Homo sapiens: one gene and its partners. The protein of the gene in region 2 interacts with the protein of the main gene of each other region in a biochemical or structural test. Each region holds a gene or a part of one and is shown on either strand. Other genes may lie near its edges. The genes, in order: NAGPA, EPS15 and ABCA4.

Region 1 (3,445 bases), on a different chromosome or scaffold from region 2:
GACTCTTTGTCTCAAAAAAAAAAAAAGAGTGGGCGGTCAAGGAAGGCCTCACTAAGGAGGTGATCTGACAAAGGAGCAAGCTAGAGAAAAGCACAGTTCCCAGCCAGAGGGAACAGGAAGTGCAAAGTGGCTGCAGGGTGGTGAGGGGACACCCAGGAGCTGAGGCAGGAGGAGGAAGAGGCTGGGGAGGGCATGCTGGCTCTTTGGATTTTGTTCTAAGAACAGGGGAAACCATTAGAGGGTCTTCACCTGGAGGCTGGCATAGCTTGGTTTACCTGTAAGAAGAGACCCCCCGGCTGCCCTGGGGAGACTGGGATGTGCAGAGGGGAGGCAGGGAGACGAGCAAGGAGGCTGCTGTGCTTCCCAGGGAGGTACCAGGTAGCTCAGACCAGTGGGAAGTGGAGTTAGGCAAGAAGCAGGAGGCCTCCCAAGGGGCGGTGATCAGCCAGGCTGCTTTTCCTTCAGGTTCCTTTAGCAAATTTGTGAATGTGATATCAGCCAGGACGGCCATTGGCCACGACCGGAAAGGGCAGCTGGTGCTCTTTCATGCAGACGGCCAAACGGAGCAGCGTGGGTGAGTCCTGGGAGCTGAGGCCCCCCGGCCGGGGCTCAGTCCTGCTAGGAGGAACGTTGACCCAATGACAGCCACCCTCTGACTCTACCTGCTTTCTGGGATGTTGACACCTATCTGTCCCCCCTCCCAGGGCCCCCTCACCTTCCCACAGGATGAGGGTTCTGAGATCTTTGCCGATTCCAAGAACTCATCATCTTCAGCTTTAGGCCTCACCTTTCCTGAACCCTAGATAGGATACAAGGAAATGGTCACAAAGTGAGCAGGGAGAAGATCTTGGTTCCAATCCCAGCTTAGCCATCGATGACTTGTCTACCCACCTATGCCGTAGACAAGTCCCTCGGCCTCCCTGAGCCTCATTTCTAGCCCCTGTAAAGAGAGTGTTTTGGTTTGCTCTGGTTGCATAACCAGCACAAATTTAGCAACACTCAGCAGGGAATGTTCTTTTGTTTGTTTGTTTCTTTGAGACAGGGTCTTACTCCGTCGCCCAGGCCAGAGTGCAGTGGTGCAATCTCAGCTCACTGCAACCTCTACCTCTCAGGTTCAGGTGATCCTCCCACCTTAGCCTCCCAGGTAACTGGGATTACGGGCACCCGCCACCACACCCAGCTAATTTTTGTATTTTTAGTAGAGATGGGGTTTCATCATGTTGGCCAGGCTGGTCTCGAACTCCTGACCTCAGGTGATCCATCTACCTCGGCCTTCCAAAGTGCTGGAATTAACAGGCGTGAGTCACCGCACCTGGCTAATTTTTGTATTTTTAGTAGACACAGGGTTTCATCATGTTGGCCAGGCTGGTCAACTTGGAATGTTCTATGTTCAGGGTGTCCCATGGACAAAACCAAGATGCTGGTTAGGCAGGGCTCTTCTCTTATCTGGAAAGAATCCTCTTGTTTAGGTTGTTGGAAGAATCCCCGTCGCCTCCTCAGTTGTGACTGAGGTCTTGGTTTCCCTGCTGGCCGCCATCTGGGGCCTCAGCTCCTTCAAGCTGCCCAGGTTCCTTCCCATGTGTGTCCTCTCCCCCAGTTGTCCGGCCACCCTCTCATCCCCCTCGTATTTCAAATCTCACTTCCTATTCTGTCACCAGCCAGAGAAGGCTCTCTGTGTTGAACACTCCTGTGATTCCAGTGGCTGCACCCAGATCCTCCGGGCCGTTTCCCCTCCCTTAAGGATTCCTATGCCATGTAACAGCACAGGCATGGGTGTGATCTCACGTGTTCACAGCTTCCGGGGGCTAGGATGAGACATGCTTGGGGGCGGGGGCCACTTAGAAATGTGCCTGCACTGTGGGCGTGATGCTCTGCACTGTGGAAGGAAAAGGAGTTAAATGAGAAATGATGGTGGGCGCTGAGCCTGAGCAGCGCCGCTTTGTGCCGCAGCATCAACCTGTGGGAAATGGCGGAGTTCCTGCTGAAACAGGACGTGGTCAACGCCATCAACCTGGATGGGGGTGGCTCTGCCACCTTTGTGCTCAACGGGACCTTGGCCAGTTACCCGTCAGATCACTGGTAAGCACGTGAGAGCCGCCTTCGTGAGGGCTGAAGTCCAGGTCTGCCCCAGCCTGTCTCATTCAGCCAATATTGAGTGCCTGCTATGTGCCAGGCCCCGGGGGTTCAAGAGAGCAGAAATTGCTGCAGTCCCTCCCCCAGGATGCCAGTACTACCCAGGCCTAGGAGCAGGGTCAGTTGGTCAGCAAAGACCTCCCTGAGGATGACAGAATAAGAACTGAGATCTGAAGGAGGTGGTAGCTGGGTGGGGGTGGGAGAGCCTTCCGGGCAGAGGGCACCACATGTGAAAGGCCCAGGGCTGGGAGGGATTGTAGGGAGCGGAGGAACCTATAAAAGACTGGAGAGGGCTGGGCACAGGGGCTCACGCCTGGAATCCCAGTGCTTTGGGAGGCCGAGGTGGGAGGTTCGCTTGGGCCCAGGAGTTTAAGACCAGTGTGGGCAACATAGACCCTGTCTTTATGAAAAAATAAAAAAAAATTAGGCAGGCGTGATGGTGCACACCTTACGGTTACAGCTGCTCAGGAGGCTCGGGTGGAAGGATCGCAATACCTCATCTCAAAAATAGATAGACGCCATCTTGTAGGTAGGTAGGTAGACAGGTGAGAATGGAGAGAGGGGTGGTTGGGGGCAGCCTGGAGGGAGTTGAGGGGCCGTCTGGGGGTGTCCTCTCCTCACACATCACATCCCTCTACAGCCAGGACAACATGTGGCGCTGTCCCCGCCAAGTGTCCACCGTGGTGTGTGTGCACGAACCCCGCTGCCAGCCGCCTGACTGCCACGGCCACGGGACCTGCGTGGACGGGCACTGCCAATGCACCGGGCACTTCTGGCGGGGTCCCGGCTGTGATGAGCTGGACTGTGGCCCCTCTAACTGCAGCCAGCACGGACTGTGCACGGAGAGTGAGTGGGGGTTCTGGGGAGGGGGCTCTGCCCAGCCCTGCCTTGCCCTAGGCCCTCACCTGGCCTCCCCGGTCTTGTCTCGGCAGCCGGCTGCCGCTGTGATGCCGGATGGACCGGGTCCAACTGCAGTGAAGGTAGGAGCTGCCACGCCACTAGCGGATGGGGAGACGGTGGCCCCCGGCAGCCCCCACTGCTCCTCTGCTGCTTCTGTCTCCACCTTCTGGTCTGGGAAATGCTTGCCTCTTGTCTTCTGCCCCGGCCTCACCTGCACATCACTGTGTGACTCCCCTGTGGCTGCTGCGGCCCGTTCCACAAAGGGCTCGGCTAAAACAAGGGTCCCCGGGCTCTGGCTCCAGGGCCCACCTCAAATCCAGCACGGTCTTATCTTGAGATCCTAACTGCAGTGCCTCTGTAGAGATTCTGCTTCCAAATAAGGTCACGTTCAGGGGCTAGTCCAGGGAGGGCA
Region 2 (3,649 bases):
CAAATTAGCAAATGTGAATTCAAAATTAGAATCACAAAACAGAAGAAACTAGGTTATTGTTTATAAAACAGGCAACACTTATGGAGCATTTATGTACCAAGCACCATGCTAAAATGTCTTACAGGTTTTGCCTCATTAATCCTCACAGTGGCCCTAAGGGGTAGGGTATTTATTAATCCTCCAATTTTGAAGATGAAGAATCTGATACTAAGGTGATTTAGCTAGTAAGTGGCACACCAGTACTTAAACCTAGACCATCTAGCCACAAAGCCCACACTCTTAATCACTACTCCAATGATAATCATCAGATAGATATACAAGATGTATGATAGTTTCAATATATAACAGGTGACAAAAAAACCTATTGTATAAAATGACTGAAAAATGAACAGTAAACTAGGCAAGAGGTTGAAGGAGCAGAAGTTGGAAAGTATAACTGACTAAAGGACACAGAGGATCCATTTGAATATATTTCTTGCTTTACAAAGACTTACTGAACTAATTTCCTGTTGTGAATCTTGTAGGTGCTGCTGAAGAGGTTCCAACTGAGCCTTCCCTGACTCTACACTCTCCTCCAATTCTGCTGTTTCTTGCTGTAGACGGCTCAGCTCTTCTCTAGCTTTTGCCAATTCTTCTTCGTAAGTGGAGATCTGCGATTCCTGACTAGTTAATTCAGCTTTCAGAGAAGAGATCTATAATGTGAAAGTGAATGAGAAGAAATGGGGATTAAAAGAAGAGATGTCATTAAAATGTTCCAAAATGCAATACATTTATTTGTTTAGTTTACTATTTTGGTGTTTTTTTTGACAGCAATAGCAAATAATTTATTTAATTTAATTTTTGAGAGAGAGAGTCTTGCTATGTTGCCCAGGCTGGATTCAAACTCCTGGGCTCAAGTGATCCTCCTGAGTAGCTGGGACTATAGGAACATGCCCAGCCATACCTAGCCCTATTATGGAGTTTTTGATGTTGTTGTTGTTGTTGATGTTTTATTTTTTTGAGACAGTCTCACTCTGTCACCCAGGCTGGAGTGCAATGGCACGATCACAGCTCACTTCAGACTTCAGGCTCAACTTTCCCAGGCTCAGGTGATCCTCTCACCTCAGCCTCTCGAGTAGGTGGGATTACAGATGTGGGCCACCACGCCTGGCTTTCAATTTTTTTTTTTTTTTTTTTTGAGACAGAGTCTCGCTCTGTTGCCCAGGCTGGAGTGCAGTGGCGTGATCTCAGCTCACTGCAAGCTCCGCCTCCTGGGTTCACACCATTCTCCTGGCTCAGCCTGCCGAGTAGCTGGGACTACAGGCACCCGCCACCGCCCTGGCTAATTTTTTGTATTTTTAGTAGAGACGGGGTTTCACCGTGGTCTCGATCTCCTGACTTCGTGATCCGCCTGCCTCGGCCTCCCAAAGTGCTGGGATTAAAGGCGTGAGCCACTGCACCCAACCAGCTTTCATATTTTTTGTAGAGATGGGATTTCTCCATGTTTCCCAGGCTGGTCTCCAACTCCTGGGCTCCAGCAATTCCCCCCGCCTCAGACTCCCAAAGTGTTGGGATTACAGGTGTGAGCCACTGTGCCCAGCCAATTATGATGTTTTTTGATGTATGGTTTTCGTAAAGAAGGGTAACTGGGGGAGGGACAGAGGAGAGTTGAAGGTATAGGCACCATATTTCCAACAAAAATTTGGAAAAACAGTTCATTAACTGCCCTTCTATTTCCTCTAAAGAAGGCCTGTAATTTCTGGATGAACCTTGCTCCATCGCCCCCATGAACCCAAATGCTGACTGGATTGCCAACCACCACCATCAATAACAAAAAGTAGAGAATGTTTTCATCTTAAGCCAGGAAAAGCAACTAATGTATAGGTGCAGGCAGCAGGAAACAGCCAGACATTACCAGTTGGGCCTCCTCAGCACATTTCTTTCTGACTTCCTTGAGTTGCTCCTCCAGCTGGGCTTTCTGCTCATCCAGTTCATCAAGGAGTTCCTGTACCTGCTGTTTCTGGGCCTGTAGTTTTTGCAGATTAGTATTCTCCCTTTGAACTTCATCTTGAAGATCCTAAAATCCAAGAAAATTAATATATTTATTTTCTTTGCGGGCAGGGGAGGGTTAAGTTAGTAATTTTAAATCTACCTTAAGAAAGAATAAAGTCTTACTGAGTATACTGTGTTGATGAGACTAGGGTACTTAACAGCTTTAAATACAATCTTTACTTGAAGACATCTTTCCTAGAATCCATATTTAGATATTCAATTTGCTAACTCAAATCTGTCCTTGGACATGTGATGGGCTTTGCTAACATGTTGAAAATAGAACTCCTGGAATTTCCCCACAAATCTGTTTTAAGCTCAATCTTTCCCCTCTCAGATTCTCTGGTCAAAAAAAAACCCCACATGGAGAAACCCTGTCTCTAACAAAAATGCAAAAAAAAAAAAAAAAATTTAGCTGGGCGTGGTGGCGCATGCCTGTAATCCCAGCTACTCGGGAGGCTAAAGCAGGAGAATTGCTTGAACCCAGGAGGTGGAGGTTGCAGCGAGCCGAGATCATGCATTGCACTCCAGCCTGGGCAACAAGAGTGAAACTCCATCTCAAAAAAAAAAAAATTAGCTGGACGTGGTAGTACGTGCCTGTGGTCCCAGTTACTTGGGAGGCTGAGATGGGAGGATCTCTTGAGCCCAGGAGGTCAAGGCTGCAGTGAGCTGTGATCATGCCACAGCATGCCCAGACTGGGCAACAGAGTGAGACACTGTCTCCAAAAAAAAAAAAAAGAAAAATTAATTCCAGGTAAATAATGGACCTGAATGTAAAAGTCTAACTTTAAAATGTGTAGAAGAAATGCAGATCTCAGTGTAGGAAAAGATTTCTTAAAACAAAAAAAGAACCATTTTGAAAATGTTATTTATTCATCCATGTACATACCAGACCTCATGCTTAATAACAAGAACTACAGAAATTTTTAAAAAGCCAGGCGCAGTGGCTCAGGGATTAATAACTCCGAAGTATCTGTCAGCAGGAGGTAGGCAAAGATTTCAAAGCGGGTGAGGTAAAACTGAACACAAATTTCTAAAAATAATATCTATTCAAAGGTCCCAACAGTCATTCACCAGAATAAGAATCTAAGAACAGAAGAGAAACTTACAGGTAAAAGGTCTCTGAATTACTGCATAGGTTACACAAGATAGCACCATTATGATAATAGCCAACACTTTAAATGCTACTTAAAATGTGCTAGGTTGTGCTCTAGGCTCTTTAAATATACTAACTTATTTATAGTCTATATGACAGATCTACGAGTTAGGTACTGATATCATTTCATATTTTACAGATGAGAAAACTGAAGTACTGATGTGTAGGTAATGTGTCCAAAGTTAAAAATAGTAAGCTATGGATTCAAAGTGGGTTCTGACTCCACAGCCTGAGCTCTTAACCACCATGTGACATACCATCTGCAGACTAAATGTCTCACATGTGTCACTATTTTTCAAATATATGCAGATGTTTCTGTGATTAAATAGAACACTGAACAATGCTTTCAATAATTGCTTTTTATCTTATATTTTCTTAACCAACTGGTTAGTCTAAAAATATCATGTTGCTTTCTTTAAAAAATTCCTTTAAAGCCCAGGCAGAGCAGGCAGACAAAAAGGGAAA
Region 3 (3,749 bases), about 43 Mb from region 2:
TTAGCATGTAACAAGGTCTTAATGATTCTGCCAGAGCTTGCTTGGGGGTAGCCTGCACTTGTGGGCCACTCCAGTCACTTCACAGGTGCTCAGTAAATCTCAGTTGAATCAGTCATCATCATCATCATCATCATCATCATCATCATCATCATCAATTTTTCAGTCTGGTTCCTGTCTCCTTTTCCAGCATCCTCCATTCATAGCCTCATAGCCTTCACTCCAGCCATGTTTCACTTGTGGTTTTCCTGGGCAAGATAAGCTATTCCTCCCTGTCTTTGCAGAGTTTAAATGACTCACTTGTTCAAGTACCCACCGTTGCCATGTGGGACCGTGAGCAAAGTACTTAATCTCACTAAGCTTCACGTTCCTCATCTGTAAAACAGCAAATATGGACCTCACAAAATTGTAGTGAGGCTAAAATGAAATAACATATGCAAAAGCAGTTTATAAATAATAAACTTACTATAAAATATTATTTTGTAATTCTGCAAGCTTGTCTTAAATGCCATCACCTCCAAGGAGCCTTTTTGCCATCATAAGCAGAAACTATCTCTCTCTTCTTGGAAGCTCCACCATGCACAGCCTATGGGCCCTCATCACACTCCTTGAGTTATTCGAGTTCAAGTCCCGTGTTTACAACCAGACCGCAAACTCTATGAAGTCAGCATCCATTCCTCTCTGTGGTTCTCCCTCCGCCCCATCCAGGTCTCAAGGGTCTAGAGTCTTTCAAAGAGAACACATTCTGAGATTTGAGGAGGCAGAGACAAAAAGTTCCACTGCGAAGTGCCAGGGAGGCTTCTGTTTGGGGTGTCCCTTGGGATCACAGATCCCCCACCTGGTGATGAGTCAACCCAGCACCACCCCATTGCAGGGCTGGAATGACAGTAATGGGCCCACCTGCTGCCTCTCCTCATACCCGCACCCCAGTCAGACATTGCAAGTCAGTCACGGCTCTGTCCTGCTGGGCCTGGAGTGTTCCAGTGCCTTTTCCATCACAGCACCAAGCAGCCACTACTAGTCGATCAATTTCAGCACAAGAGATAAACATCATTACCCTCTGCTAAGCTCAGAGATAACCCAACTAGCTGACCATAATGACTTCAGTCATTACGGAGCAAGATAAAAGACTAAAAGAGGGAGGGATCACTTCAGATCTGCCGAGTGAGTCGATTGGACTTAAAGGGCCAGTCAAACCCTGACTGCCGGCTCATGGCAGGCTCTTGCCGAGGACAAATGCCCAGCCTATATTTATGCAAAGAGATTTTGTTCCAAACTTAAGGTCAAAGATACCTAAAGACATCCCCCTCAGGAACCCCTCTCATGGAGGAGAGTGCCTGAGGGTCTTGGTTTCCCATTGCATCCCCCACCTCAATTTCCCTGGTGCCCAGCCACTTGTGTCTTTAGGGTTCTCTTTCTCTCCATAAAAGGGAGCCAACACAGTGTCGGCCTCCTCTCCCCAACTAAGGGCTTATGTGTAATTAAAAGGGATTATGCTTTGAAGGGGAAAAGTAGCCTTTAATCACCAGGAGAAGGACACAGCGTCCGGAGCCAGAGGCGCTCTTAACGGCGTTTATGTCCTTTGCTGTCTGAGGGGCCTCAGCTCTGACCAATCTGGTCTTCGTGTGGTCATTAGCATGGGCTTCGTGAGACAGATACAGCTTTTGCTCTGGAAGAACTGGACCCTGCGGAAAAGGCAAAAGGTAACAGTTACTGTCTGTGGTTTAAAAATGAGGTGTGGAGCAAATAAACAGGTTGGAAGTGTGGGGTGGGGTGGTGGGGTAGGGTGGTGGGGCAGGGTGGGGGGTTGTGAGCAGTCAGTGGGCTTGTCGCCGATTAGCACTGAAGCAGTGTTTAGCTGGACGGCCTTTCTGTGGGCCCCTCTGACAGTGCCCTTCCCAGGAAGATGTGTTTCTCTGTCCTCAGCCACATGAAAATCTTTTGCCTACCGTGCCTGTCAATCCATTGCCTGCCCGCCCCTCCCCCACCCCCCGTTTTACACCTGCCTGTCCAGTCTACCGCTCTCTAGGGCATCCACGCTGAGCAGTGGGAAGAACTTTAAGCCCTGAAGAGCAGGCCAAAGGCAAGCAAGAACCCCCTCGAACAGCTTCCCAGCTTAGTGAGGCCTTATTTCATTGATTCTCTGAGGCACATTGTTTTTTCACATGTTAGCATTTCTGAAATTGGGATGCAGCTCACGATCAAGTCACAGTTTAACTGGACACATTATTTTTCTTTCTTAGTGGTGCAGAAAAGTAACAGTGTGTCTTACAATTGACTGCGTCCTAGATTCTGTGAGATGCAATACGTTATTAACCATCACGCACATTTCCTGAACTCTTTCAATGAGCAGACACCAGCCTGGGTTAGACTGGAGCCCTAAAAGCACGACACAGATTCCACCCTGGACTGGCTTCTGTTCTGCCTGGGAAAACCCAAAGTACGTTTGGAGACCAAGAGCAACATAAAGTAGCATAGGTGGAATAGTCCATGAGAAGTGCGAGCAAAAGGTGCCGGAGATCAGAGAACACCAAGACTGTACTTGTAAATGACAACTGGCTTTGTGCAATTTTTTCTGGGAAAGGATAAGGAGTGACTATAGAACTGTAAAGAAAGAATGCACTTTGCTACAGCCTTGCAGAGTTGTGCAAATGCCGATGACTAAAGGAGCTGAAAGAGGAAGGAGGGGATAAGGGATGGGGGCTGGGTAGGGGTGAGATTAGGACCCTGGGAGCTGCAAGCCACTGGAGAGATCAGGAGGAAAGGGAGGGAGACCTGCTTTAGGCGAGAAGAGAACAGTATTTGTTCCAAATCTCGGTTCAGAATAAGTTCATGTAGGTGATGGGGCCAACTGGAACAGGTGAAGGCCTATGAATGAGTGTCTCAGTTAGGGTCTCCTTAGAGTTTAATATGAAAAGGTGTTAGCTAAGTACAGAGCTGGTACCTGAGAGAGTAAAAGGAAACTCTAAGGTATCATGGAGGTAGCAATTGCAGGACACAGCTCCCACCCCTAGGGCTGAGAGAACCAAGGGAAGAGACAGGAATTATTAAGACTTGGAGCATAGATGAGAGGTCTGTGGAGCTGACATTAGGACTTGGGAGGAAGGCGTGCATGGAGGCTGCTGCTGGATCTCTGAACCTGACCTCGGGTCTGGACCCCTGAGGAGAAAGCCCTGGCAGGTTGGTGCATGTGGGGCCGAGGGACAATAGCTTAACAACCAGCATAAAAGAGAGCAGCATGGGACACGCTTCAACCATGCGCATGGATGGCTCCAAAACCTGTGTGTGGCTGGCCCAGGACGCAGGGAGGCTGCAGGGGGAAGAGACAAGTTAAACCTGACTTGTCTGGGAAGCACCATTGTCCTCAGGTCACTTTCCTCTGTCAAGCCTGGTGCTGAAGTTATCTGTTGTCTCCAGGGGCCAAGTATTAAGAGTAATCAGAAACTCAGTCCTTTCTTCTAGGAGCTTCCCTTCTTGCATGAAAATCCTGATAAAACTGGAAAAAAAAACCTCATGATTAAATTTTTTCATGTATTCATTCTTTCCTTCTATCAAAAAATAATCTCCAGGCACCGTGCTAGGTTCATTGGTATACAATGGCAACAAGACCTCCCAGCCCCTGCCTATGTGAGGCATCTGTGGACTGCGGAGGAAAATCCAATATGCCATTGTTCTCTCTTTCCCATAAGAAATTACAATTCTCAGTTCATTTTATTCTCACTGTGCTCTTTGTGACCCTCAAAGGGGGTCAC

Evidence for each region.
Region 1: the proteins of EPS15 (region 2) and NAGPA form a complex in vitro, tested with the Homo sapiens proteins (one study listed by BioGRID).
Region 3: the proteins of EPS15 (region 2) and ABCA4 interact in a surface display test, tested with the Homo sapiens proteins (one large-scale study listed by IntAct).

What each region holds. Positions count from the first base shown.
Region 1 is NC_000016.10:5,027,514-5,030,958, reverse strand, and holds part of NAGPA (N-acetylglucosamine-1-phosphodiester alpha-N-acetylglucosaminidase precursor), read left to right. Parts: intron 1-465; coding exon 466-574; intron 575-1,950; coding exon 1,951-2,079; intron 2,080-2,773; coding exon 2,774-2,979; intron 2,980-3,065; coding exon 3,066-3,113; intron 3,114-3,445. UniProt on the Homo sapiens protein: Catalyzes the second step in the formation of the mannose 6-phosphate targeting signal on lysosomal enzyme oligosaccharides by removing GlcNAc residues from GlcNAc-alpha-P-mannose moieties, which are formed in the first step.
Region 2 is NC_000001.11:51,407,641-51,411,289, forward strand, and holds part of EPS15 (epidermal growth factor receptor substrate 15), read right to left. Parts: intron 2,057-3,649; coding exon 1,895-2,056; intron 693-1,894; coding exon 495-692; intron 1-494. UniProt on the Homo sapiens protein: Involved in cell growth regulation. May be involved in the regulation of mitogenic signals and control of cell proliferation. Involved in the internalization of ligand-inducible receptors of the receptor tyrosine kinase (RTK) type, in particular EGFR.
Region 3 is NC_000001.11:94,118,931-94,122,679, reverse strand, and holds the start of ABCA4 (retinal-specific phospholipid-transporting ATPase ABCA4), read left to right. Parts: upstream 1-1,531; 5' UTR 1,532-1,634; coding exon 1,635-1,700; intron 1,701-3,749. UniProt on the Homo sapiens protein: Flippase that catalyzes in an ATP-dependent manner the transport of retinal-phosphatidylethanolamine conjugates like 11-cis and all-trans isomers of N-retinylidene-phosphatidylethanolamine (N-Ret-PE) from the lumen to the cytoplasmic leaflet of photoreceptor outer segment disk membranes, where 11-cis-retinylidene-phosphatidylethanolamine is then isomerized to its all-trans isomer and reduced by RDH8 to produce all-trans-retinol.